5 separate regions of the Homo sapiens genome follow, and regions 2, 3, 4 and 5 are each linked to region 1. The links come from fine-mapping of genetic effects on gene expression. A gene starts in region 1. Each other region holds a variant in brackets. All regions are shown on one strand. Distances are from middle to middle.

Region 1 (5,168 bases):
AACTCTATGGAGCAGACAGAGCAGGCCATTTACAGAAAAGAAAACCGAGGTTTGGTGTGATTCAATGTCCTCCCCAAGGTCACACAACTTCTAACTGCTAGAGTCAGAACTACCATAGGGGAGGGGTGGCTGCTTCCACATATCAATTTCTTAACCAAAAGAGAACTTCATCATAAATGCCGAATCTCGATAATTAGCGTAGATCTGTGCTCCTATCACCGAAATTTCATCTCATCAGAGAACCACCACCAGCAAAAAAGCTGTTTTAAAGTTAAAACTTAAACTGCTATCAATTTGGGAAATGGCTAAACCATGATATACTGAAACTATGGAACATGGTGCAGCAGTTGTTAAAAAATGACTTGAAGCATTACATGCTAACATTGAAAGTTACGGTGCAACAGTCCTTGTTAAAGCAGTCAAAAATGATGTTAAGTGCACACACGTAAAAGTACTCCAAAAGATCTAGAAGGATAAACACCACACACATAATAGTCGGCATCCCTGAAGACAGAGGTTGATAGTCAAAGACAAAATGCCATCTCTGTGATATGCTGTTTTTACAAAGAAAATGTACTACTCTGCTAATTTAGAATTAATTTTTAAATTTTTAATTAACCTGCGGGTTGAACAAGGTCAATTTCCTGCTCTAAAAAACTATGCGTCTATGAAGGAAATAGGAGCCCTCTCTAAATAAGAAGCCAAAATGCCTAAAAACCGTTCCAGCCTGTGAAAACAATAAACTGTAAATATCAGAAAACGTTCCTTGAAGAAGGCAATAGCTCAGAAATCTTTTTTCGGTATCTGGTCTCCTTTGTTGCAATAAGACAGCCCGTAAGCAATCTAGCAACCAGAACAGTTCAGTTCGGAGCAGGCTCCCGGGGAGATTTAGTTGTTAGAGTTCGGCAAGAAAGGTTTCACAAAGGAGCTGAGTTCTGGGGGAAATGAGAGGTGATGTGGCGGAGAGATGGATCCGGACGGGAAAATGTCTGGGAGGGGGTATACGGAGTTCATGAGAAGCCGGGGACAGTGAGAAAACTGCAGTCGAGTCCTGGAAGGGGTGAGAACGCCTGCGGAGGCGGGAGTCAGAGGGAAGTGGACAGCGCCGGCAGCCGGTTTACCTGGGTGAGAATCCGGCCCTTGTTGTGGTCAAACAATGGAGGCGTCCGGCGGCAGCAGCCTTCTGCGCTGGGTGCGCGAGGGGTTCCTCATCACCTGAGCGGGATGCTCGCCTCCTCTGCCGGACGCAGGGCGCCCTGAAAAACACACAGCACCCCATGCAGCCGGCTCCTCCGCAGCCGCCCGGCTCCCCGGTCCCCTGGCGCGGCCATGACCGCCTCTCCCGGGACCCGCCTGGAAGGGCTCCAAGACGCGGCTCCACGGGCGACGAGGGCGGCAGCGCTCCCCCTTCCCTCGGCTCCAACAACAATGGAGCCTGGCTCGGGAGTCCGGCTCCCGAGGGGCCTCGCCCGGCCTCGCCCTGCCCGCTGCCCAGCCCTCGCTCGCACCGGCCGCCATCTGCGCCCCCCGGCCCCGCTCCCCCGCACTGCGGGCCCGCGGCCGACCGCCCGAGGCCCGAGGGGCGGCTTCTCAGCCCGGGACCCGCCAGGCTGCGCGGAGCCGCTCTGACCTTCCCCGCCATCCCGAGGCCCATCCTCCGGGATGGGTTGTTTTTCTTTTCTTTAAGCCACTCCACCTCCTTCCCACCCCCAGCCCGCTCCCTGGCCCCCGGCCCCCGCCTCCCTCCGGGAAAGAAAGAAAGACTGCAGCCCGGCCGCCGAGAACTCACTCCAAGTGAGGGGAGTCAGCGCCCCAGGCCGCGGGCGCCGCGCACCCACCTCCCTCTCCTCAGGGACACCTCACAGGTGCGCCTCCGAGCCGCGCGCGCGCGCGCTCCGCACACCCAGACGCCTCCGGGGGACAGCGCGCGTGCGCACGCACGAGGCCGGGGAAGCCCCGGGGGAGCGGGGGCCGCACGCATGCGCGGCCACCCGGCCCGCGCCCCCACCGCCCGCCTCCGCCCCCGCCCCCCAGCCCCGGCCCGGTCGGGCCCGGCCATCCCCCACCCCAGCGCCCGGCGCGCGCGCTCCCGCTCGCCTCCCTCGCTCCTCCCCGCGCCCCCCCCTCCCTCGGGCCGCGTTACCCAGGGCAACCGCAGTGCGGCCGCACCTGAGCTGTGCGCCTGCGTCCCGCGGGCCCGACCCTCCCTTCCCCTCGGCCTTCGCCCCTGCCCCGCCACAGCCGGGCGGAAGGGGGCGTAGCCCCGCCTCGCCAAGTGAATATCGGCCCGCCGCCCCCGCCCAGCCCGGCAGACACAGGCCCGCCGCCGCGCCGGCGCCTAGCCCGCCGGGTCAGCGCGGCCAGGCCTCGCCGCCGGCCCCGCTCCCAGGGTGCACCGCGGCTAGCGCTGGGGTGGGAGCGGGCGAGATGCGCCGGGCGGGCGGTGCCCACTGACCTCCCTCGGCGGCCCGGCCCGGGCAGCGCCCGAGCCCAGGCAGCCCCGCCCGCCGCGCCCCGCCCAGCCCATGGGCCACGGGCCCCCACCGCCGCCCGCCGGGAGGACCGAGCCTAAGAGGGCAGCCGCCTGAAGGAACGCGACGGCGGCGCCCGCAGGTGAGGCGGGGCCCGGGGTGTGTCGAGTCCGGCCCCGCTCACCTGGCAGCGCCGGCGGGGGCGGAGGGGCCGGGCAGGGGCGGAGGGGCCGGGCAGGGACGGGAGTTCGTGGCGAAGACTTTAAAAACCCTCCCCGCCGGGAGACGGGGGACGGGGTCCTCCTGCCCCACCTCCGGGGCTTGGGAGCCACGTTAGCTCCCCCAGGGGCAGGGGTGGCCCCGGGCGAAGGCAACTCGGGAGACGGCGGAGTCGGGGAAAGAGGGTCCCTGAGGCTCGGCGACCCCCGCGCCCGCCCCCGCGGGGTCTGCCGGCCCTTTCTGGGGAGGGGGCTCCCCGGCCCGGGCTCCAGTCCAGGGTGCGGACCGGCCGCGGCGCGCGCCCACCCCAGTGCCAAGGGGGAGGAGAGGCCGGTCCCGGGGCGCTCCTGTCTGCCCCGGGGTGGGATCGCAGGGCGAGGGATCCGCATTGCAGGTGCACCAGGAGCGCCCCGGGGCCTAGCCCGGCTTTGTCTGGGATGCTGTGGGGAGGAGGCCGTCTGAATCCACATCGCCTTTTTAAATGCTTGTTACCACCCGGGGAACCTTAGAGACCCTCCCTGACAAGTTGTATCGCCTCCCGTCCTGGTAGCCTTTCCGTAAGTACACTACCTTGCCAGCCCCTTCCTGAAGCTTTGATGCGGCTTTAGTTTACTCTGAGTAACGATTTGCCTGTGATTCGTGAAACGGAGCAGAATGCACAAACGCAGCAGAGCTCCAGGCTTGGCTACTGGGCTGCCGTCTGCTACGGCGAGTGAGTTTCTCTAACTTAGGTTTTCATGCTGACCTGTATTGTTTCATTTCAAGTTTTGGTATTTAGCAGTACGATCTAGTCCACTAAGGAAAATTAGGCTGCCAGAGAGAAAATATAACCGCGCTCTGTAGCTTAGGTTGCAGTAGTCGGTTTTATAACAAAATGCAAGCTACCACGCTGTAATACTTTAACATATTACGCAGTTCCAGAAACCTGTAAGAGTATTAAAACTAGGATTGCCATTTTAAAACTTTTACGTTTGAAATTTATTTAAAGAGCATTGGTATTGATAAAACGACTTTTCTTTTTTTTTTTTTTTGCTCATCAAGAATTCCCATGCATTTTCTCGCTATTGCATTGTAAGGAAAAAGATGCTAACGTTTAAAGTGGCTTTTACCTCCAAAGATGTTTTGAAATGTATGTAATTCTTTTGGCTAACTGTTCATCTTATGTGAAATATGCTTGGAAGAAGGCTTTAAAACTCGTGATTATATATACGGGTATGCGTACATATCCATACACACCACTGAAAAATCTTAAAATAGTTTTGTTACTCCTCTGCGTATTATAATTACTCAGTAAATTTAGTTTAGGTACATTTAAGATCTAAAGTACAGGACAATTATTTGTGTGAGATTTTTACTGTGACACATTTTAAATACATCGGTCTAACAAATAGGGTTTTTTTGAAATTAGATATTTTTATTAACTCTTTAAAAAACGAATCATTCATCTTGGGTTTATAACTCTTTCATCTGCCATGTTGGATAAATTGCAAAATTGGATAAATTGATCTCAACTTATCCAATTATCTTTGGATAAATTGATCTCAACATAATTACCTAATTGGTAGGATGCCTTTGCAACGATACTAACGTTAATAAAATGTTGATGCTTTTAAAAAATACTTATGTTAAAAAAGCATTTTCTCGTATTTCTGGCAAGAAAAGTCATGGAACTTTTTTCCTTCTATCTGGAACAAGGTCAGCCATAAATAGTTTCTAATACATAGTGGGCACACATTTGGTAACTAAGATTAATTATATCTACTGAATTTACTGAATTCCATGTCCTTCAAGGGCAGTGACTAGGTGACTTTGTATCTTCACACACCAATGTTGCAGTAAATGTTTGAGTCAGATTGAAGTTTCATCCCGGCTAGGTAGGTGCTAACTTAATGACACCAGTTTCCACATCTTCAGCTTTGATGTTTCAACCTGCAGAAGGATTTGGGCACGGAAGTGGCTGTGTCCTAATTGTCTTCAAATATTTGAAGGTCTGTCATGCAGCAAGGGATTTCATTTATTTTGAGTAATTATTGAGTACAGAAAAACAGATTTCACTTCTATATGAAGGCAAAAGTTGTTTATGGTGAGAACTAGCGGTGGAAAGAAGGGGCTGCTCCTTCCCTAGGGGCTTTTGGGATCAGCTGGTTCCCCACTTGGCGTGAATGGCTATTAGGAGGTATCACAGAGGTATAGGAGGGTCTTTCTGAGAGGGACTCCTGGGTATTCCGATGGCAACTATATTCGAGGACTTCTGTACTTCCCTTTTAGCACTGTGGCTTTTGTTTTTTGTTTTCTTATGCTGGCTTCTAGAGTTGTGGACGTAGCAACATCCGCAGACACCTACATGAACCCTAGGAAGATTTTTTAGTAGATTAAAGACCCACCTGCTATCGAAGATGATTCTTAGTCGTGCTTTGCATTTGTATGGCACATTACAGGGAATAAAGCACTCTCGAATTCAATGTGTTTTAAAAGACT
Region 2 (5,168 bases), 44 kb before region 1:
TTCATAAACGGACTGACAATACTACCACCAGTTGCTTTCTTTTAGCATTTCCTGATCTTTTTCAACCCCTTCACTGTCAGCCTTTTGGGTCACCCCTTTATTTTAGGTGGTCTCCCATAACCATCATATACACGTTTGTGACGTCATTTACAAATCAACTTGAAAATGTCCCTAAGTAGCTGAATTTAACCAGTTCACATTTACTATGATTAACAATATGCTTCAACTTACTCCTGCCATCTTATCCTTTCCTGTTTTTTTAATTTCTTCTCCTAATGTTTACTGGATCAAGTGAGGCAAGCAAAACACAGAGGATTCAGTTCTTTCCAGACACTGCCTGTTTCAACTATAACAATGTGGCAACAACAGCTCCAGGAAGTAGGGCTTGCTGCTCTACCAGACTCTCCCGTCATCCTCCACAGACTGTAGAAACAGGACTTACCCTTGAGACTAAGTCCCTGTGGGTCTTGACCTTATCTCAGAAAGGGGAGCGGGGGGCACACAAGGATGGAAGAGTATCAGGGGTAAAAAAAAAAAAAAAAAAAAAAGACATTTTGGGGACAGACAGGATGAAGACTAAAGAGGACTGACTTAAACAGTCAGAGATCCCAGGCAAGTGAGGTAGGACATAAAAATTAGACATGAGAGAACATGGCATTGAGCAATATGAATAGGTCTATTTGAGAACCTAAATACAACCCACACCAGTACTGGGGCCCTCACCCATTTTACAGCAAGAACTGCCTCCTCTGTAACCAAGACAGATTCAGTTGAGATCTAGTGTTTTCCATTCAGGTAGCCAATTCCGTCCACGTCCAGCCAGTCCCCTCTGAATACTCAATTGTCCTCACCTATATTCTTTTAATACACTGTTCGCAGAACTGTTGTCTTAAGCGTATGACATCGAAACTGCCACACAGCCTACCTCCTGGGCCCAGCATAACAACACATGCACATGTATCCTTCCATTTTATGCCAACGTCCTTTTCCCTCTTTCCTCACAACACAGCGTTGTGTTTTTTCCTCCGTTTATTATACCCATCATTTCCTATCCATTCCACTAACTGGAACTCTTAGGCACCCCTTTTGCCTCCCAAGATCCCCAAACAACGAGTAACCATATGCCAGCCAGTGTTCTTTATCTCTTAGAGTCACAAACATAAGGAAAGCCCCCTTTCCTAGAAAAATGCATAGACCTACAGGTACACAAAATTCTGCACATAACTTAAAAAGGTTCTAGACCTCCCCAAAAGCCGTCTGCAGGTCTTAGGTTTTAAAATTCTGTAAATACAACACCCCCACCATAATTCATGATGCAGAGAAGACCTGGATCAGGGCCAGCAAAGAATTAAGAGGGGGAGGGAAAGTCGGTCTCTCAGCGAAGCCATATTTAGACACAGTATTTAGGAAGGTACAGAGTCTATAAAATGCATACATCCGCCTAAAAATACACAAAATCTGTATGTGCTACTTTACTCTAGAAATGCAGTTTATTTACATATGCCTAAATCTGAGCAATAAAATTGCTTTGGTATAAAGTGTCATTTTCCACCGATATTTATGACAAGTTCTTACTGGCATAAACACACACACAGCCTTGGGATCTCTGGATTTGTTCATGTGTTTTGTAATATGTTAAAATGAGAATGATAAAAAAAATTCTTAAGTTTCAACTTACTTATGATTATAAAGTTATTCTACTTCATGTACATTGAGAGTGGAAATAAAGATATCCCAGGCCTCCCTGCCCCTTAGGGGTTTGGGTAAACTTGACTCAAAACTCCATTAATTCCATGGCCTGTAGCAGCTTTTAGCTACCCTGAAGATTTCTGCATATTCTGCATATTCCTTGGAGCTTGTTCTCAGGGGCACCCTCTTCTGGCTCCTATATTTATGTGTGGTACTTACGTGTTGCCCCATTTCACCCTGGATACAGCACTCAGCCCTTCCACCAGTTTCCATAAGAAATCCACCATGCCAAACACCCCTAACTTTAGGGAAAGACTTTGTGGTCACGAAGTTTTCCTACACAAGAGCTCAGAACTTCAGACCATCCTACTCCACTGGTTCCCTGGTCCTCTCTCCCACTCCAAGTCTACCCTTTGTTTTCTTACCTCCAACTACCCCAGGAGATTCAAGTTCTCTCTCTTACCATGTGGAGCAATTCAGCCCTCTCCAGGTCCTACCCCAATTTTAGATGTCCAAACCCACCACAGAGCTCAGCAAAACAAAAAGGAATCCAAATAACATGACCTTTCTTCCTTAATAGGCAACTGGGAATAGGAATTCGTTATAGCACTAAATGCTAGGCACTTTACGTTTATTTACTTCTCCCAACATTTCCATGAATTAGATATTTTCAAAACCATTTTAAAGATGAGAAACTTGAGGTTTAGAAAAATTAAGAAAATGAATATGGTTAGAGGAAGTGCTCTATCATCTTCATTTTTCCTCTCTTCCTCTCTAATCCATAGATCTTAACTCAGCTTTGCTATTTATATATGGCTCTTGCCCTGTAGTAGTATCAACCTTTCTCATCTTTTCCTAGATTTTACCACTGAGTATATTTTCCATCTGCTTCTGATATTTGCTTTCCATTCACCTAGTTTTTCAAATTTCTGAGAATATCAGTACATTACAAAGACTGAGAAATAATTCAAAAATTTTAAGAACAGAGCCAAGAGCTAGAAGGTCCCTTGGAAGGAATCATGTCCATGCTCACACAACACAAAGTAATCCCTCTTCAATTTCTGAGATGGCCTGACGAGCTGTGCCCACATTCTCACGCAGTAGACTATCTCAATGTTGGACTCTGATGCAAAGAGTTCTTCCTATCTGCAAGAGGCAATCTGCCGTTTATTCATGCTTCCAAGTTAGAAACCATGCAGTCATTCTGGACTTATCTTGGCTCACACTCTAAATCCTAGCAGA[TTC/C]ACCAAGAGTGAATCCCATCACAGATGACCTACCCTTGCCCCCACCCCCCACCCCCATCAGAAGGGCTAGTTTGGGTTGCTCCCATCCCAATGGTGGAATTGCAATGCAGACTTGTCTCTCAAAGCTGGTAGACGCCACAGCCAGTCAGACTGTTGACTGCGGCACAGAACGTGGGCCCCCTCTGCTTCAGCTGACAGCACTTCACGCCTTCCCAGGCATGGGCTGCAGTCAGCAGGGGCCAGGGCAGGGCTTGGAGGAACTGCCAAGGGGCACCAGGAAGATCACAGAAAGCACCAAAATGGATCACCCAAGGAAAAGGAATTAGCTGCCAACATTTTAAGATTAAACTGTGTGTGAAAATCGAGGTTGGTGTTTTCTTAGAAGAGCTGTGGGCCTGTATTCGCCGTGAACACAGAGCCACAGCCGAGCTGAGGCAGTCCTCTCAGTGGACTGTGCTCTCTCCAGATGGATTATTCCTGACTTGAGTCATTTATTACCTGTGTGGCTGTGACCTCAGACCAAGGTGTCCTCACACCTTAGTGTGCCCGAGAAAGGCCCATTCGAGGCTTGTTGTCCAGATGTGAGTATCAACAGCACCCCCTCCCTTCACTCTCAAGTGCTCAGTTTGGACAATAAATTACATGGTCACCCTGGGCTTAATGTGCAAGCCAATTCTCCACCACACACCCATACCCATACTCCCACACACGACCACTGAATTCACACAACTACATGTCAAGCACAGAACCCTGTTATAAAGCGATTTTATTAAATTGATTTGGACATACTGTAGGTCAAATAATATTTTCTGAAGATAACAATTATGGACTTTAAAGCTCGACATAAAATTAGTAGCTTCAAAAGGGTTAGTCATATTCCCCAGCAACAGCATGATAAAATAATTCAACTATGTAGAAATATAGAACTCTAGGACTAGCTGGAAACTCGGAAATCATTTAGCCTAATGTTCTCATTTTGAGAGAAAACTAGACTCAAAGATTAAGCGATTTGCCCAAGCTCACATACCTAATAGTAATAAAGCTAGAAATCAAACCAATTTTTCCTAAAACTAAAATTCTATCAATGATATTTCAACTGGCTATCAACTAAAAGTCTAGGCTTTTCTCTAATGCTCCACGCTATTGTGACATGAAAGAGTGATAAGACACTACAGTAAATCGTACTTGTGGAATTCAGGCCTGGAAGGGGCTTTGGCAAATAACTAAGCCAGCCCTCTCTTTGTAAAAAGGAGGAAAAGTATCTGAAGTGACTTACCAAAGGCTTGTTAGCAGAGATGTCTGGATTAAAATCCAGATATTGACAAATTCACCCCCAAATCCCATCTCTAGTTTCATGGCCCACCCACTAAATCATGTGCTCCTTTTAAATCTCCTTTATGCGCTGAGGTTTTAGTTATACAAAAACCCCTTCCAGTCAAACAGAAAAAATTAATTCAAATATGGAAAGAAAAATCAAACTTTCAGTATTTTCGTGACTATCTTGAGTAGTTCATTTTCCAACCTCTTAGACAGCTGACAGACACCACTAACCTGATCACCTATTTCAGAGCTTCAAAGATCCTTAATTTCCCCAAAGACTTCCTGAGCAAAAGGACTACATGTGGGAAATCAATGAAAACAGGAATGAGAAGAGAAAGTTAAAAATTGGTTGCTTTTGTTCCTGTCATTGGGGACTTTTGGTCTTCTAAACATTCCTTGAGTTCCTCCACATGAGTTTTTAATATCAATCTAGCAAAAATTAAAACAAACAAAAAAAGGCCTCTGAAAGTCAGGATACTGACCACCTCGGCATCTCTCCCCTTCCCCACTGCTTGCGAATGCCAGTGCTGGCCTGTTCCTTAAACGCACCAGCTCATCCCCCAGAGCAGCCTGTGTGCTCTGCCAGCGACTGCTACTTCTCCTCCGGCCTCAGCTCAACATCCCACCGCGGAAAGGCCTCCCTGACCACTAGCTAATGTCACCCCACCCCCACCCCACCCCACCACTAAAATCATCACCCTAGTTTATTTTCTTCATAGCACTTAATCACTATCTCAAACTACATTATTTATTTGTTTACTTATCATCTGTCTCCTCCACCAGAAGTAAACTCCACAAGAGTAGGGACCTTGTCTGTCTCATCAGTGGTATTCCCAGCACCTAGCACAGTGCCTGGCATATAGGAGGTGTTCAATACATATTTGTTGAATGAAGAAAAGAATGATGGATTAATAA
Region 3 (5,000 bases), 130 kb after region 1:
GGCTGGCTCCTACTTGGGATTTTACAAATCCAGATTTTTGTGTAAAACTCCATTTCTCTTCTCTTCTCTTGAAATGTGGGAAAATCTAGCAATGCTGGGTCCACTTTCCCAAATGGTGATTATGAACCAAAGCTGGACGGGCACCCTCTTTAGATGGACTTTTGCTCTCCAGTTAGCCACAGATCCCACCACTCTCTTGTCTGCTGGCCGCTTTACTCACGTACATTATCAACCTGACCCTACTAGGGTAGTGAATCCGGGACTCTTGCTCTACATCCTGCTAACAAAGCAGGGTCTTTAAGCAGACACACTTAGGTTCTGGGGCTGTGGTGGTGGAAGGTTTTCTACTAGCTTCTTCCACTGTCGCCATGTCAAAGACTAGGAGGTGAAATGCCATGTCCTGCTTTAAGCTCTCTGCCTAATGAGCCAGTACCAAAGGTGACAGCCAGGCCTTACCCTGTAATCCATGCCTTCGCCACAGTTGGTGACAACACAGAGCAAGCCCAAGGCTTTCGCCAGGTCCTTGGTGGTCTCGGTTTTGCCGGTTCCTGCTGGGCCGGCGGGGGCCCCACCTAGATACATGGACAGCGCCTGTTATAAGCCAAATGCAAAACATATGTTTTCTGGTGCACAGAAGGAAGTGGGTGTCATTTCCAAATTCATCACTGTGACTATAGGTGCAGAATAGAGAAAGAATGTGGTGTTTGCTTTCATGTGTCAACTTGACTGGGCCACAGGATGCCCAGGTAGCTGGCTAAACATTATTTCTGGGAGTGTCCATGAGTGTGTTTCAGGAAGAGATTAGCATTTGAGAAAAGCAGATGACCCTCCCCAAAGTGGGTGGGCCTCATCTAATCCATTAAAGACTGAACAGAACAGAAGGATGGAGGGAGGTTACATTGGTGCTGCCTGATCATCTAATCCATTGAAGACTGAACAGAACAGAAGGATGGAGGGAGGTTACACTGGTGCTGCCTGACTGACTGAGCCAGGGCACTGGGCTTCTACCCTTGGCACTTCGGGTTCTCAGGCCCTCAGACCCAGACACGAGTCTACACTATTGGCTCTCTCACTGTCAGAACTTCAAATGCTACTGGCCTTCCTGGTCCTCCAGCTTGCAGATGGCAGATTGTGAGAGTAATCAGACCCTATCATCACATGAGTCAATACCTCATAATAAATCTCCTCCTAAATATCCAGATAGATAGATAGATAGATAGATAGATAGATAGATAGATAGATAAAATAGATGATCGAGATGATAAATAGACAGGATGGATGGATGGATAGATAGATAGATAGATAGATAGATAGATAGATAGATAGATAGATAATAGGATGGATGGATGGATAGATACATGGATGGATGGATGGATGGATGGATGGATGGATGGATGGATGGATGGATATGTAGATGGATGGATGCACGGATGGATGGATAAGATAGATAGATTAGATAGATAGATAGATACACAGACAGACAGACAGCCATCCAGCTAGCTAGCTATGTCCTATTGGTTCTATTTCTCTGTGGAACCCTAACCAATACAGATAAGATGACACTCTTTTTCTCAAAAACAAAGGACTTTATCACTCACAGCACAGGAGGCAGCAGGGGCTTCCTGTTCTCACTCATTCCCTTTATCCTTGTCCCCCCAAATCCCATGGTGTGATGTGGAGACGGGCCCAGGTGCATGCCACATCCACAGTGGGTATGAGTCACAGCTGAGAAACTGTGAGCCTAAGAGACCACCAATGTAGCCAGGTGCAGCAGTGAATGCTATAGTCCTAGCTACTCAGGAGGCCAAGGTGGGAGGATCACTTGAGGCCAGGAGTTCAAGGCAAGCCTGGGCAACATATCAAGACCTCATCTCTAATTTAAAAAAAGAAAACTAGCAAGCATCTGACAAACAGTCTTGGGGGTTGCTTGCAAACCTTCCCAAGCTCTGCCTGGATGGAAGTGTTATCTTCATTTCCTGTACAACAAACAAGTTTACCCTCTGTCCTGGAGGGAGACACTATCTCTATCATCCAAGGCCGTTCACTTGAACGGATATATTCTGGAATAAAAGCTGTCACAAGACGTGCAAAACCACATCACACTTGCCCTAACAGTCACCACCTTTGACATTCCTGCATTTTCGCATTGGCCTCTACCAATACCCCTGACACACCATTACCTAGGGACCAGTGTACCAGTGGCTAAGCACGGCCACACTTACATGCCAATCCCAAATGGTGACAATCTGGTCACATCCCAAATGGAAAAGCTTTTCGAGATTTCAAAGCAATGATCTCCCCTGCTATTTCAATCACTGCAGTCATCACACCTCAAGCTTAGAGAAAATGCCCCGCCCCAAGGTAAGTGGTAACCACAAGTGCCAGGCTGGCAGTCACCTGGGTGAGCGTCAGGTAAATCCGATCGGTGAGGGGCGTGATGACCAGCCTGCCGTTCAGGCCCATGTACTCGTAGCCGTAGCCAAAGGTTCCCGTGCACTGGCGGATGTTCAGCTCATCCGGCTCCCGGTCCCAATAAAACCGCAACTGACTTTCCCAGTCAAACTCTCGGGCCTCCAGGATACTGGACGGCAAGAAAGGTGGAGGAAGTGGAAACCGTTGAGACAGATCAGCGGACCACAAAGGGTCCCTTTTGAAATG[C/T]CAGTGACCCCGGAAAATGCTCACCTGCCTCTTATGAAAGAATCAACTATGTCTCTGGCATGCACATCAATGATGAGAACAGTGTTGTATTTTTTCCTGTCGTTTTTGCTTAGCGGCATGGTGATGCGCGTTACCAACTCATCGATCTGCCGGTGCATTTTCCTGCCATAGTTCTTCATGGCCTGCTTCTCCCCTTTTTGCGCTTTGTGGAAGACGTCTTCCACCTCCCAGGTCCACCACACCTGGCTAGCGGCCAGCACCACCATGCCCTGGTACAGGAGCATCCAGTCGACTCTGCAGAAAACGCACACCTGTAAGAGGCTCTGATCAATCCGGGGACTGGTACCCAAAACAGTCCCTTCAGGAATTTATTTCTTTGATCTGGAATAGGGAGGGCAAAGTAAAGGTTTTAGGTAAGCAAGTGCCTGTATTTGTTTACCTAAGTAAGTCAGAGGAGTAAGACTTAGGTGAGAGTAAGATGTTACCTATCTCCGACTAGGTAGTAAAATTCCAGGCCGAGGGTGCCTCTCTCCACAAAAAATGTTGCAGGTACCTGACTGCACAGAAAGATGCCAGATCACTTTTTAAATGTTTGGGGCCAGTCGTGGTAGCTCACGCCTGTAAACCCAACACTTTGGGAGGCCAAGGAAGAGGATCACTTGAAGCCAGGAGTTCAAGACTAGCCTGGGCAACATAGCAAAACCCTATCTCTACAAAAAATAAATTAAAAACTAGCCAGGCATAATGACGCATGCCTGTAGTCCCAGCTACTCCAGGGGCGCTGGAGCCCAGGAGTTGGAGGCCGCAGCCAACTACAATTGTGCACTGTACTCCAACCTGAGTGACAGAGCAAGGCCCTGTCTCTAAAAAATAAAATAAAATAAAATATTTGATTATAGGTTTTCAAACTTACTTAGTATTTGAGGTTTATGTAAGAAGTAAAACAATATTCCAGGCTGGGCACGGTGGCTCACACCTGTAATCCCAGCATTATGGGAGGCCAAGCTGGGGCAGATTGCTTGAGCTCAGGAGTTTGAGACCAGCCTGGGCAACACAGCGAAACCTTGTCTCTACCAAAAATACAAAAATTAGCCAGATGTGGTGGTACATGCCTGTGGTCCCAGCTATTCAGGAGGCTGAGGTGGGAGGATTGCTTGAACCTAGGAACTCAAGGCTTCAGTGAGCCGAGCTCGCATCACTGTACTCCGGCCAGGGCAACAGAGCAAGACCCTGTCTCAAGAAAGAAAATTAAAATTCCAACAAAGAATTTCATAATCTCTGACCACACTGCCCAGGTTTGCAGGCCAGGTTGTAACACGCTTTTGAATTTTTGCCAGTCTGAAAAGTGAAACAAAACATCTCATCCTCCCTTAATGTACAGATCCTGCTGAGTCGTGGGGTTTCTCCTCTTTTCATGTTTATTGGCCACTTGGATGTCCTCTCCAGAGGCACTAACTTACAAAGCTTGTGATTGCCTTGAGACACATTTAGACAAAGCTTTTTTTCTAAACTGCACTTAAAAAATAATGGACTCAGAGCTGTAAATGCCTGATATGGTTTGGCTCTGTGTCCCCACCCACGTCTCGTCTCAAATTGTAATCCCCATAATCCCCAGGTGTTGAGGGAAGGACCTGGTGGGAGGTGACTGGATCATGGGGGCGGTTTCCCCATGCTGTTCTCGTGATACTGAGTGAGTTCTCATGAGATCTGACGGTTTTATAAGTGGTTGTTAGTTCCTCCTTCTCTCTCTCTCTTTCCCGCCACCTTGTGAAAAAGGTACTTGCTTTTCCTTTGTCTTCCGCCATGACTGTAAGTTTCCTGAGGCCTCCCCAGCCATGCGTGACTGTGAGTCAATTAAACCTTTTTCTTTATAAATTACCCAGTCTTGAGTATTTCTGTATAGCAGTGTGAAAACACAGTAATACAATGCCAATACTGGAAAAGTGACTGCGGATTACTATAGTCATTATCTTGATGACCTACAGTTAATGGCAAAATAAATTTAAAAGAGTAGGAGGCCGAATGCTTTGGCTCACGCCTGTAATCCCAGCGCTTTGGGAGGCCGAGGCCGGCAGATCACCTGAGGTCGGGAGTTCGAGACCAGCCTGGCCAACATGGCGAAACCCTGTCTCTACTAAAAATACAAAAGTTAGCCGGGTGTGGTGATGTGCACCTGTAATCCCAACTACTCAGAAGTCTAAGGCAGGAGAATCGCTTGAACCTGGAAGGCGGAGGTTGTAGTAAGCCGAGATAGCGCCATTGCACTCCAGCCTGGGTGACAGAGCGAGACTCTGTCTCAATAAATAAATAAATAAATAAATAAGTAGGAAAAGCAATAAAAA
Region 4 (5,168 bases), 57 kb before region 1:
TAGTCCCAGGAACATGGGAACAACAGAGCAAATCCTTCAATCTTAGACTTGTTTTGTTTTGTAAAAGAAAAACAAACACCTTTCACTATGTTGTGTTCTTTAAAAATACCCACAATAGGCCGGGTGCAGTGGCTCACGCCTGTAATCCCAGCACTTTGGGAGGACGAGGCGGCGGATCACGAGGTCAGGAGATCGAGGCAATCCTGGCTAACACGGTGAAACCCTGTCTCTATTAAAAATACAAAAAATTAGCCAGGCATGGTGGCGGGTGCCTGTAGTCCCAGCTACTCGGGAGGCTGAGGCAGAACTGCTTGAACCCGGGAGGCGGAGCTTGCAGTGAGCCGAGATCGCGCCACTGCACTCCAGCCTGGGCAACAGAGTGAGACTCCGTCTCAAAAAAAAAAAAAAAAACCACAATAGCAAAGACATGGAATCTACCCAAAGGTCCCTCAAAGATAGACTGGATAAAGAAAACGTGGTACATATATACACCATGGAATACTATGCAGCCATAAAATGGAACAAGTTCATGTCCTTTGCAGGGACATGGATGGAGCTAGAAACCATTGTCCTCAGCAAACTAACACAGGAACAGAAAACCAAACACTGCACCTTCTCACTTATAAGTGGGAGCTGAGCAATGAGAACATACGGACACAGGGAGGGGAACAACACACACTGGGGCCTATTGGTGGGGACAGGGCAGGGAGAGCATCAGGAAGAATAGCTAATGCATGCTGTGCTTAATACCTAGGAGACAGGTTGATAGGTGTGGCTAATCACCATGGCACACATTTACCTATGTAACAAACCTGCACATCCTGCACATGTACCCCGGAACTTAAAAAAAATACCCCAAACAAATGATACAAAGAACATAAGCTCTTGAGTATATGAATAACACTCAACCACCCACGAGTGAATCAGCAACTTCTATTCCGCACGAAGGAAAACAAAAATGAACCCCAGGTTGGCTTTTTTCCATTTGATTATTGGTTCTTTCTCAACCACCTATGTAACTTAAATTTACTTAATATAAAGTCAATTATATAATTCAAAACTAAATCATGAAGCCAAATAAAGTATAATTAATTCCAAAGCCACGTGTCTATTTTATTATTCCCTGCTCATGGGGATTATCCAAGTCATCGCATCTACCATCCCTCTGCGTATTAAATTTGTATATTAAAACTGTGTCAATATTCAGAGGCAATTATCAAGAGGGACTAGAGAACTTGGAGGGGCTTGTAAACTGTTCTGTGCATTTTGTCTGAGAGTGTCAGAAAAAGAAAAGAGATCCTGGCCGATACCGAAGTGCTGAAGAAAACCACAAGTCGTTTGACTGCAAGCTCCCTGATGACAAAGGCCTCTGAGCCTGCAGGAATTCCCTGCATGGAGCCTGTGAGGCTGACAACAATTGATATTTCCCAGGCATCTTGCAGCCCGAGGATCTCTCGGGGATCTTGATTAGGACTTTGTTGGGACAGACACACGCTAGAAGGAGATGAGTCACGTGCTTTCCTGTCGCTCTGCCTCGGGGAGGTCAAATGAGCTGGCCAGTGTGAAGCCAGGGCACTGGGGAATTGGATGAAGACCCCAAAATGCTGACTCTCCTACCCGGACTTTTTGTGACATGAGATCAGCTAGTTAACGCCTAAGATTCTGTAACCTGAGATGAGATCGTATGAGTTTTGCTGTCTTTTTTTTCCTTTCCTCAAAATTACTGTTTGATACATATCATTTTTACTTACTCACGAGGGACAGAAATTTCCCCGGGGCTTGTCTAGTTTGATACCTTTGCTAACTAAATCTGTGGAGGTGGACGGTCAGTCTGCGCTCCCTTGAACCTGGATGAGAGGGGTCTCTGTCCTGGGCCCCGTGCTTTAGAGGGCCCCACTCACAGCCTCTCCAGGGTCAAGGGAATGTGCCAAACCGGAATGTTGCTTCTGTATCAGGCTCCAAATTTCCTGGCACTGGAGGTTCCTTCTGAAACAGCGCAGGCGTTCCTTCAGAGCCTGCACAAACCCGTTCTTCAGATGCAGCCTCCGAAGAGCAGGCTGCTGGTACCCACGGCCCTGCCCATGGGCCTGCAAGGGGGCAGCTATGGGGTGGTGTGGAGGGATGGCCAGAGCTCGAATCATGGGCTGGGTGTCCACACGTGTGGACTCCAGGAGGACTCGGGTGGGGCAGGAAGGGATGTGGAGCAAAAAGGGACACAGGCAGGTGGGACACATGCCAGCCCCTACTGCCCACCACAACCCAGGGGGAGCTCAGGAGTCCCCGCATCCCAAAGGCCAAAGCTTGGCCTTCCAGGTGGTTCTGAAGAGTTCATTGTCAGAACCGCTTTGTTAACTTGATTTGCTTTGCTAACTTGATTTATAACTTTTTTT[A/T]AAAAAAAGAGACAGGGTCTCACTCTGTCACCTAGGCTAGAGTGTGGTGGCGCAATCATAGCTCACTGCAGCCTTGAACCCCTGGGCTCAAGAGATCCTCCTGCCTCAGCCTCCCAAGTAGCTGGGACTACAGGTGTGTGCCACCATGCTCGGCTAATTTTTAATTTTGTAGAGATGGGGTCTCACTATGTTCCCCAGTCTGGTCTCCAACTCCTGGCCTCAAGCGATCTTCCTGCCTTGGCCTCCCAAAATGCTGAGATGGCAGGCATGAGCCACCATGCCTGCCTTGATTTATGACTTTTAAAGGTGGGTCTCCATTTGTACTCTTGCCCGGCCCCCCAACACATCAAGGGCAGGCCAGTGACACGTTAATGTGAAGTCATTACTTGCACGTCTCTGCGGGGTCTATTCCAAGATACAACCTGCAGATGAATGCACACACAGAAAATGTACAAACAATAAATAAATGAAAGAATAATTAAAAATATTATTTCTCCCTGGTAACCTGCTTCCGACAAATTTCAAAGAAACTGTTACATAGAGGCTGAGTGTGGTGGCTCACGCATGTAATCCCAGAACTTTGGGAGGCTGAGGCAGATGGATCACTTGAGGCCAGGGGTTTGAGACCAGCCTGAATATCGTGAAACCCTGTCTCTACTAATAATACAAAAATTAGCTGGGTGTAGTGGCACACGCCTGTGGTCCCAGCTGCTTGGGGGAGGCTGAGGCAGGAGAATGACTTGAACTGAGGAGGCAGAGGCTGCAGTGAGCCGAGATCATGCTACTGCACTCCAGCCTGGGTAACAGAGTGAGAATCATCTCAAAAAAAGAAAGGAAATTGTTACACAGACGCAGAAGGAGCATATGGAATTTGGCCACGCTGGGTGTTACTGGTTTCAACTAAATTCTCCCAAATCCCAAGGCAAACTTCCAGCAAAGCAAGGTGACTGGCGAGCTGATGGGGTCATTTGTAAAGAAATGCTGATGCTCTCAAATGTGTACAAGCACCAAGATGCCAGCTGAGAGGGCTCCAGGAAGTTGGCTAGCAAGGGCACGCCTCTTTCCCTCTGTTCATCTGATTGTCAAGAACTCACCGGTGCGCAGAAGAGTTGGCGATCCTCACAAGCCCCAGGCTTGTAGCTTGTGACTGTTTGCTTTCAGAGAAAGGGAACTAAAAGATGCTTTTTCCCCCTCCTGCTTTTGCTTGGCCCTGGCTCCCTGCAAAATCTACCTGAGCAGGTCTGGAGTCACCAGGGACCACCTCCCAGTGCCTTCAAACACGGGGCTCTTGGGCAGCACTCTGGGACCTCAGCGCTTCGCCTGCCGGCAAATGACCACCACACCGCTGCCAACCCACTGCTGCCACCACGCTTCCAGCTACAGCCAGGTCTGCCAGACCCTGCTCCCTCTGCCAGATGCAGGCTCAGCTGTTGTCACCTTCACTGGGACAGCCAGCTCTGACGGGCAGTGCCAGCCTTTCTGCAAGATCACAACACTTGGGACCACTGCCACTTCCTGGGGATAGTAATAATAACAGCTAAGATCTACTGAGCCCTTGCTCTGTGCCAGACACCAGCTGAGGACTTCACTTGCTTAAGCTCACTTCAGCCTCGCAGCCATCCGGAGATAAATACTGTCATTCGTCAGTACAATACTTTACAGATGAGGAAACTGAGGCTCAGAGAGGTAAAGACACTTGCTCAAGGTCACACAGCTAGATGTGGTGGAGGGACTTTGAGTCTGGGCTCACCACACTCTGCATCCAACCCTGCAGCACCTTGGGTGCTGCCACGCCCTCGGGCTCAGCTGCTGCTCCCAGTTGCCACCCCCAAGTCTGCCCGGCTCCCCTGGAGTCCCTGGCTCTCCCACACCGTGTGGCTTGGCTGCCTCTGGTGGAGCAGTGTCACTTTGGCCATGTCAATGCCAGCCTCCCCGAGGACCGCGTCTTCTTGGCACTTCTATCTCTAATGGATCTGTGACAGGGGAAGACTTATGACTATGTGATGTCCTTGTCGTCTTCTCCCTCAGACCCCAGCCACTGCCATCCTCCATGACCAGGCCCTTGTGGAGAGAGAGAAAGAGACAGACACAAAGACAGAGAAAGACAAAGAGACAGGGACACAGACAGACAGGGAGAGAGAGGGAGATAAAAAGAGGCAGAGACAGAGAGACAGATGAACAGAGACAATACAAAAACAGAGTGACAGAGACAGGTGGATGGAGGTAAGAGATGGAGAGGCAGACACAGGCCCGCAGGGCAGCAGGGAGGCCCTGACGATGGCTGCAGTCCTGCAAGCAGGAGGTGGTGGTGGCTCGGAAGAGGGTTTTAGCTCAGAAGATGGGAACAGATGCAGGGTGTATTCTGAGGACAGAATTGACAGGGCTTGCTGACAGATGTGAAAGGAAAAGGGAAATGAAGGAGGCTGCTGGGTGTGGGGCCTGGACACTCACTGCAGGGAGGCGTCATTCACTGCGACTGATAAGCAGTGTCACAGCCAGTTTTATGTGTCAGCTTGGCTTGGCATGGTTCTCAGATATTCGGTCAAACACCTGCCTAGATGTTGCTGTGGTATTTTTGGGATGCGATGAACACTGAAGTCAGTAGCCCCTGAGTGAAGCCAAAGACCTGCCAGGCTATGGGTGGGTCTCATCTAATCAGGTGAAGGCCGTGGGAGAAAAAGACTGAGGTTCCCCGGGAAGAGGGGATTCTGCCTTCAGAAAGCCTTCAGGCTGGAGTGGCAACATCCACCCTTCCCTGGGGCTCGGCTGCCAGCCTGC
Region 5 (5,000 bases), 67 kb after region 1:
GGCGGGGCTGTCAAGTGTCTTTAAAAGGTCCCTTCAGGGTGGATGGAAACCAGGCCCCGGCCACCGCTCTGTGAACAAGCAGGTGGGGAAAGAATGGGGCAGATGTTTTCAGATTCAAGACAGAAGGAGCCCAGGCCTGCGGCGGGGTCCTGAGCCCTTGGGCAAGTTAGGAACCAGCCAGGGCGTCAGTTTCCCCATCTGTGAAGTAGAGACGCAGAACTGGAACCTTCCAGTTCCCAAATCCTCTGAGTCTACCAAAGTGACGTTTTCTGCTGTTGGGTTGCAGGCCACGCTCTGGGATCTCACTTATCCAGAACATACCACTTTCCACAATGCCGGATGACCAAGGTGTGTGAAATGTGGAGGGTGCAAGTCAAGAGAAAGGGAGATGTCTGTTTAATTTGATTCCTTTCTTCTATCACAAAACAAACTCAGGAATGAGAAAGGGAGAATGATATGCTACCCTCCCTAGAGGAAAATAATCCTTATAAACCCCACTCCCCACCTCCCAGTACTCTACCCCTGACACACCAGCTGTCTCTGCTTTTTCTCCAGCCGAGCTCCTTGCAATCTCAGAGAAGGTGCCCCCTCCGCCCTCCATGACCATGACTAGGTCAGGTCCCAACATCCACTGTCAGAGCAGCAAGGACCTTTCCTTCCTAACCTAATCCTACATAATTTCCCCATGCACATGGGATTCCTATAGGAAAACAGAGTGTCAGCGCCACGCAGTGAAGACCCTGCCTGCCTCACTGCTGATGGGCCCCAGTGCCTGCTCAGGGCAGGGGTGGGGTGGGGGACAGACACCCACTGACTACTGAATGAATGAAAGGAAGAAAAGTGAAACTCAAGAGCCAGCAACAAAGGGAGGCTTTTATAGTTTTATAGTTAGAGAAACATCTACTTCTAATCTTCATGACTCTTCATCTTCCTGCCTTAACATTTAATGATTTCTACAAAGAGGATTGAGTATGATAAGAAGGAAGCGCTTTTTAAGGACTTAAAAGATTATAAAATTGTCAAGATGTAAGTGCCGGCTCATTGCGCTTAACATCCAAATGACCTGAGAAAAGCCAGATTTTACTCATCTGGAAAAACTCAAATTGGATCCAAACTCACACAGAACCCCAGGAAAAAAATCCTCAATAGATAAAAGATTTAAATATAAAAAATTAAAACATAAGAGTACCAAAAGAAATCATGGGGAAATTATTTTACAATCTTGCAGTGTGATCAGGCCTTTTAACTAGGACACAATATCCAAAAGCCACAAAATAGGTCGGGTGCGGTGGCTCATGCCTGTAATCCCAACACTTTGGGAGGCTGAGGTGGGTGGATCACCTGAGGTCAGGAGTTTGAGACCAGCTTGGCCAACATGGTGAAAGCCCATCTCTACTAAAAATACAAACATTAGCCGGGCATGGTGGTGGGTGTCTATAACCCCAGCTACTTGTGAGGCTGAGGCAGGAGAATCGTTTGAACCTGGAAGGCAGGGGTTGCAGTGAGCCGAGATCGCGCCACTGCACTCCAGCCTAGGTGACAGAATGAGACTCTGTCTCAAAAAATAAATTTAAAAAAAGCCACAAAGGCCGGGCGCAGTGGCTCACTCCTGTAATCCCAGCACTTTGGGAGGCCGAGGCGGGTGGATCACAAGGTCAGGAGATCGAGACCATCCTGGCTAACATGGTGAAACCCCATCTCCACTAAAAATACAAAAAAAAATTAGCCAGGCGTCGTGGCGGGCGTCTGGAGGTACTCAGGAGGCTGGAGCTACTCAGGAGGCTGAGGCAGGAGAATGGCGTGAACCCGGGAGGCGGAGGTTGCAGTGAGCCGAGATCGTGCCACTGCACTCCAGCCTGGGTGACTGAGCAAGACTCTGTCTCAAAAAAAAAAGCCACAAAATAAAATATTGCTAAAACCTGCCACATAAAAATAAACATAGATGGCAAAAACAAACACACACATAAACCTCATAAACAAAGTCAAATAGCCCATGACAAACCAGGAAAAGATTTGCAACTCACCTTATGGATAAAAAGCTGAGCTCCCCATTATATAAAAAGCCCCTGGAAATGGTTTTGAAATAAAAAGCAACAATAACCACGACCCAATAGATACGCAAACCAAGTTCACAGAAAAGGAAATACACATAACTCTTAGACACACTTTTCTCATAGGAAAAAAAAAAAAGGCCAGCTTCACTCACACTAAGAGAAATGCAAATTAAAACTACACAAGTACCACTCATCTACAAAATATGCAAAAATCCCAACATGTGATCGCGCCCCCTGTTGGTAAGTCTAGGAAAAAGCAGGTACTACTCGTTTGGATTGTTGGTGAGGATAAATAGGTTCCATCCCCACGGCGGGGATTAGGCAACAGCTATGAACACTATAAATGCCTACACCCTGGGACCCAGCAATTCCACTTCCAGAAATGTATCCTGCAGGTGGACTCGCCCACGTGCACAATGAACTATGGTCAGATTTATTCTTTGCCACGCTGTTTGTAAAGGCAAAAGACTGGAGACACAATCAATTTATT[T/G]AACAAACTCATCAGTAAGGCCTTGTTAAATAAATTACGGCACAGCCACACAATGGAATGTGAAGGAATGTTCTAAAATATCGGGGAAGTTCATCATACATCAACATGCAAAAGCTCTCCAAAATATACTGCTAAGCAGAAAAGATGCAGAAAGATATGCATAGGGTGTTATAATTTGTATATAAAAGAAGGAAAAAAGGATTTGCAGGCATCCCCTGCTCTCCAAACCCTCAGAACCTGAAGTCAGGAAGAGAAGAGACCCTTGTGTACCTGGTTGCCTTGGTCATGCATGAAAATCCTCAGGAAGTGTATATGAGAAATGATATACCCATACTACCTGTTGCAGTGTGGGAAGGTGACCACAGCTGATAGAGGACACAGTGGCCGTGGGCTTTTCCCAGCATACCTTTTGGATGCTGGAGCCATAATCACAGCTAATGCTTACATGGCTCTGACCATGTGCCCAGCCCAGTTCTTCACATATAGGCTCATATGATCCTCATGAAGACCCTGATGCAGCCGAGACAATTCTTATCCACATTTTACAAATGAAGAAACTGGAGCAAAGAGAGGTTAGATGACTTGCTAAACGTCACACAGCAAAGAGGCAGAGCCATGTATGAATGTGTAAAAATTATTCCTTTTGTACTTAGGCTTTCTCAGGGGTGAGCGGGGCACCTGTCTGCAATGCCTGTCTCACTGCAGGGGACACATGCCACGCCCTCTATTTGGCCCCATGGAAGCTCCCCCCCACTCCTCCACCTTGGATTGATGGAAGGGACTCACCGTTCCTTCTCTTCAAATAAATCCCCTTCAAAAATCCTTCCTAGTCTCTGCTTTCACGATGTTTTTATGCTGCTGACCTGGGAGCAGTGGCCCAAATCCTATCACCGGTAGCTAGAAATTTCCCTGGAGGATGTGTGTGCTGACCGTGTCTCCTACCCCTCCGCTGGGTGTGCACTTCCACTGTGTCCTGGTACCTCAGCCTAAACTTCCAACGCCTAGTGCTGAAGTTTTAATACATCGATCCTTATACCCTCCTTGACACCATCCTCAACACTGAACTAATGACTTCTTGCTGACCACAGCAGCACCTCCAAGTGACCTCCCAAGAATGAACCGGGAGGTCATTCTGTCCTGGAGTGAGCTGAATTCCATGCTCAAATTCACAAATGTTTCACCAATAAGAAAACAAGGGCACGGACTTGGACAAGGAGCGCTGCTCAGCCTTCACAGGCAGCACAGAGGCAGAGAAATAGGAAGCACAGGGAACATGCACCGCTCCAGCGGGAGCCCAGAATGGAAGCCCATTACTGACCCAGGAACGGAGCCTCTCGGCTGCGAGACCCGTGTGTGGGGCCAGGAAGACTGATCTCCTTCTGGATGAAGAGTGGGGAAGGAGAGAGCTGAGGCTCCCACGCCGAGGGGTCTGTGCGGGGCCAGGCAGCACAGGGGCAGAGGCAGTGGGCGGAGGCTGGCACCAGGACAGTGTTCCCTCCCAGGGCTTTACTCACAAGACTCAACTGACCATCAGAGCCCAGGAACAGTGCCCTGGGGAGGCCAAGCCATGCGAGGAGAAAGCTTGTTAGCCCACGCCACACCACGTTACCCTCGCTGACAGCAGATGAGCCCTCTGGTGTGGGGGACAGGGTCATCTTACAGATTGATTTGCAAGATGTATGGGGGCCTCAATAGTGACCTACTCTCACCCTCCTTGAAAGCTTCCTTGGCTGGAAATGGATTCAGGCATCGCCAGTCCGGCCGTGGTGTGCACACATCTCTGCAGAGCTGTTTTCAGCAGGGCTCAGCCCCATGGTGAGCATCCTGCCCCTGCTTAGGGCGGACACTTGCCCCCGCATGTTCCGTGAAGAGCACTGTTTTACCCCACTCCATCCTTCCCTTGGCCTGGGTTCAAGGTCAGCAGGCCCTGCTTCCTACTAGCTGGGGGATCTGGATGCCTGGGGCGCCCACCTCATCTCCCTGGGCCTCATTTTCCCCATCCGAAAATGAGGGCAACAACAGTCTCCACCATGGAGAGAGCCAGGCACAGTGGCAGCATGTGGCATCGGCTCCTTTGTAAGCTCCTGGTTGCCACGATCATGGAGACTACTGGCTTGCAGAGGTGGAATGGAAGCCCAGAATGGTGGCTCAGGTGCATTACCTAATCTCAGTCACGTCCGACTTGTCCAGCTTCTGCAGTTCCAGCTTGGCGGCCTCCAGGATGGGCATGACCTCTGCCAGGGTCGTCTCGGCCTCGGCCTTCTCCATGGCAATGACTTTGTTCTGCTCCTCTATCTCCATGGCCTTTTCCTCTGCCAGTTTCTTCTTCTCCTCGGCTGCAGGGTAGGACAGGGGGTGAGTAAAGCTTGGGCTCAGAGGAGATGCACTCGCGGCCCCGGCTCTGAGCAGAGTGCAGTCCTCAAAGGTTGGCTTGAGCCCTAGCGGGGATCTAAGGG

The links. PIP is the estimated chance that this variant, and not a neighbour inherited with it, causes the effect. A credible set is the group of variants that fine-mapping cannot tell apart.
Region 2: its variant is the best candidate, but not a certain one, in a credible set for the expression of CCDC92 in lung (TOPMed, PIP 0.50).
Region 3: its variant is the best candidate, but not a certain one, in a credible set for the expression of CCDC92 in lung (GTEx, PIP 0.60).
Region 4: its variant is the best candidate, but not a certain one, in a credible set for the expression of CCDC92 in monocytes after Pam3CSK4 (Quach 2016, PIP 0.73).
Region 5: its variant is the best candidate, but not a certain one, in a credible set for the expression of CCDC92 in lung (TOPMed, PIP 0.77).

The regions. Positions count from the first base shown.
Region 1 is chr12:123,969,974-123,975,141 of GRCh38, reverse strand. It overlaps CCDC92 (coiled-coil domain containing 92), which reads left to right and starts at 2,311. Exons shown (of 5, transcript NM_025140.3): 1 at 2,311-2,613. It overlaps ZNF664-RFLNA (ZNF664-RFLNA readthrough), which reads right to left and starts at 1,927. Exons shown (of 5, transcript NM_001347902.2): 1 at 1,839-1,927; 2 at 1,122-1,256. It overlaps ZNF664 (zinc finger protein 664), which reads right to left and starts at 1,927. Exons shown (of 5, transcript NM_152437.3): 1 at 1,790-1,927; 2 at 1,122-1,256. RefSeq lists silencers at 1,359-1,588, 1,699-1,778, 1,849-2,718, 2,749-2,868 and enhancers at 2,089-2,826, 2,827-3,564.
Region 2 is chr12:124,013,941-124,019,108 of GRCh38, reverse strand. All of the region lies in intron 2 of ZNF664-RFLNA (ZNF664-RFLNA readthrough), which reads right to left. ZNF664 (zinc finger protein 664) reads right to left here. Exons shown (of 5, transcript NM_152437.3): 5 at 3,682-5,168. Among named protein-coding and RNA genes, the nearest start is that of ZNF664-RFLNA, 43 kb to the right of the region's middle. The variant TTC/C (reference allele first, on the strand shown) is at 2,932.
Region 3 is chr12:123,843,552-123,848,551 of GRCh38, reverse strand. DNAH10 (dynein axonemal heavy chain 10) reads right to left here. Exons shown (of 79, transcript NM_001372106.1): 31 at 2,683-2,952; 32 at 2,398-2,581; 33 at 457-591. Among named protein-coding and RNA genes, the nearest start is that of DNAH10, 84 kb to the right of the region's middle. The variant C/T (reference allele first, on the strand shown) is at 2,659.
Region 4 is chr12:124,027,029-124,032,196 of GRCh38, reverse strand. The region is part of intron 2 of ZNF664-RFLNA (ZNF664-RFLNA readthrough); the gene reads right to left. Among named protein-coding and RNA genes, the nearest start is that of ZNF664-RFLNA, 56 kb to the right of the region's middle. The variant A/T (reference allele first, on the strand shown) is at 2,391.
Region 5 is chr12:123,902,819-123,907,818 of GRCh38, reverse strand. DNAH10 (dynein axonemal heavy chain 10) reads right to left here. Exons shown (of 79, transcript NM_001372106.1): 57 at 4,706-4,880. Among named protein-coding and RNA genes, the nearest start is that of DNAH10OS, 30 kb to the left of the region's middle. The variant T/G (reference allele first, on the strand shown) is at 2,545.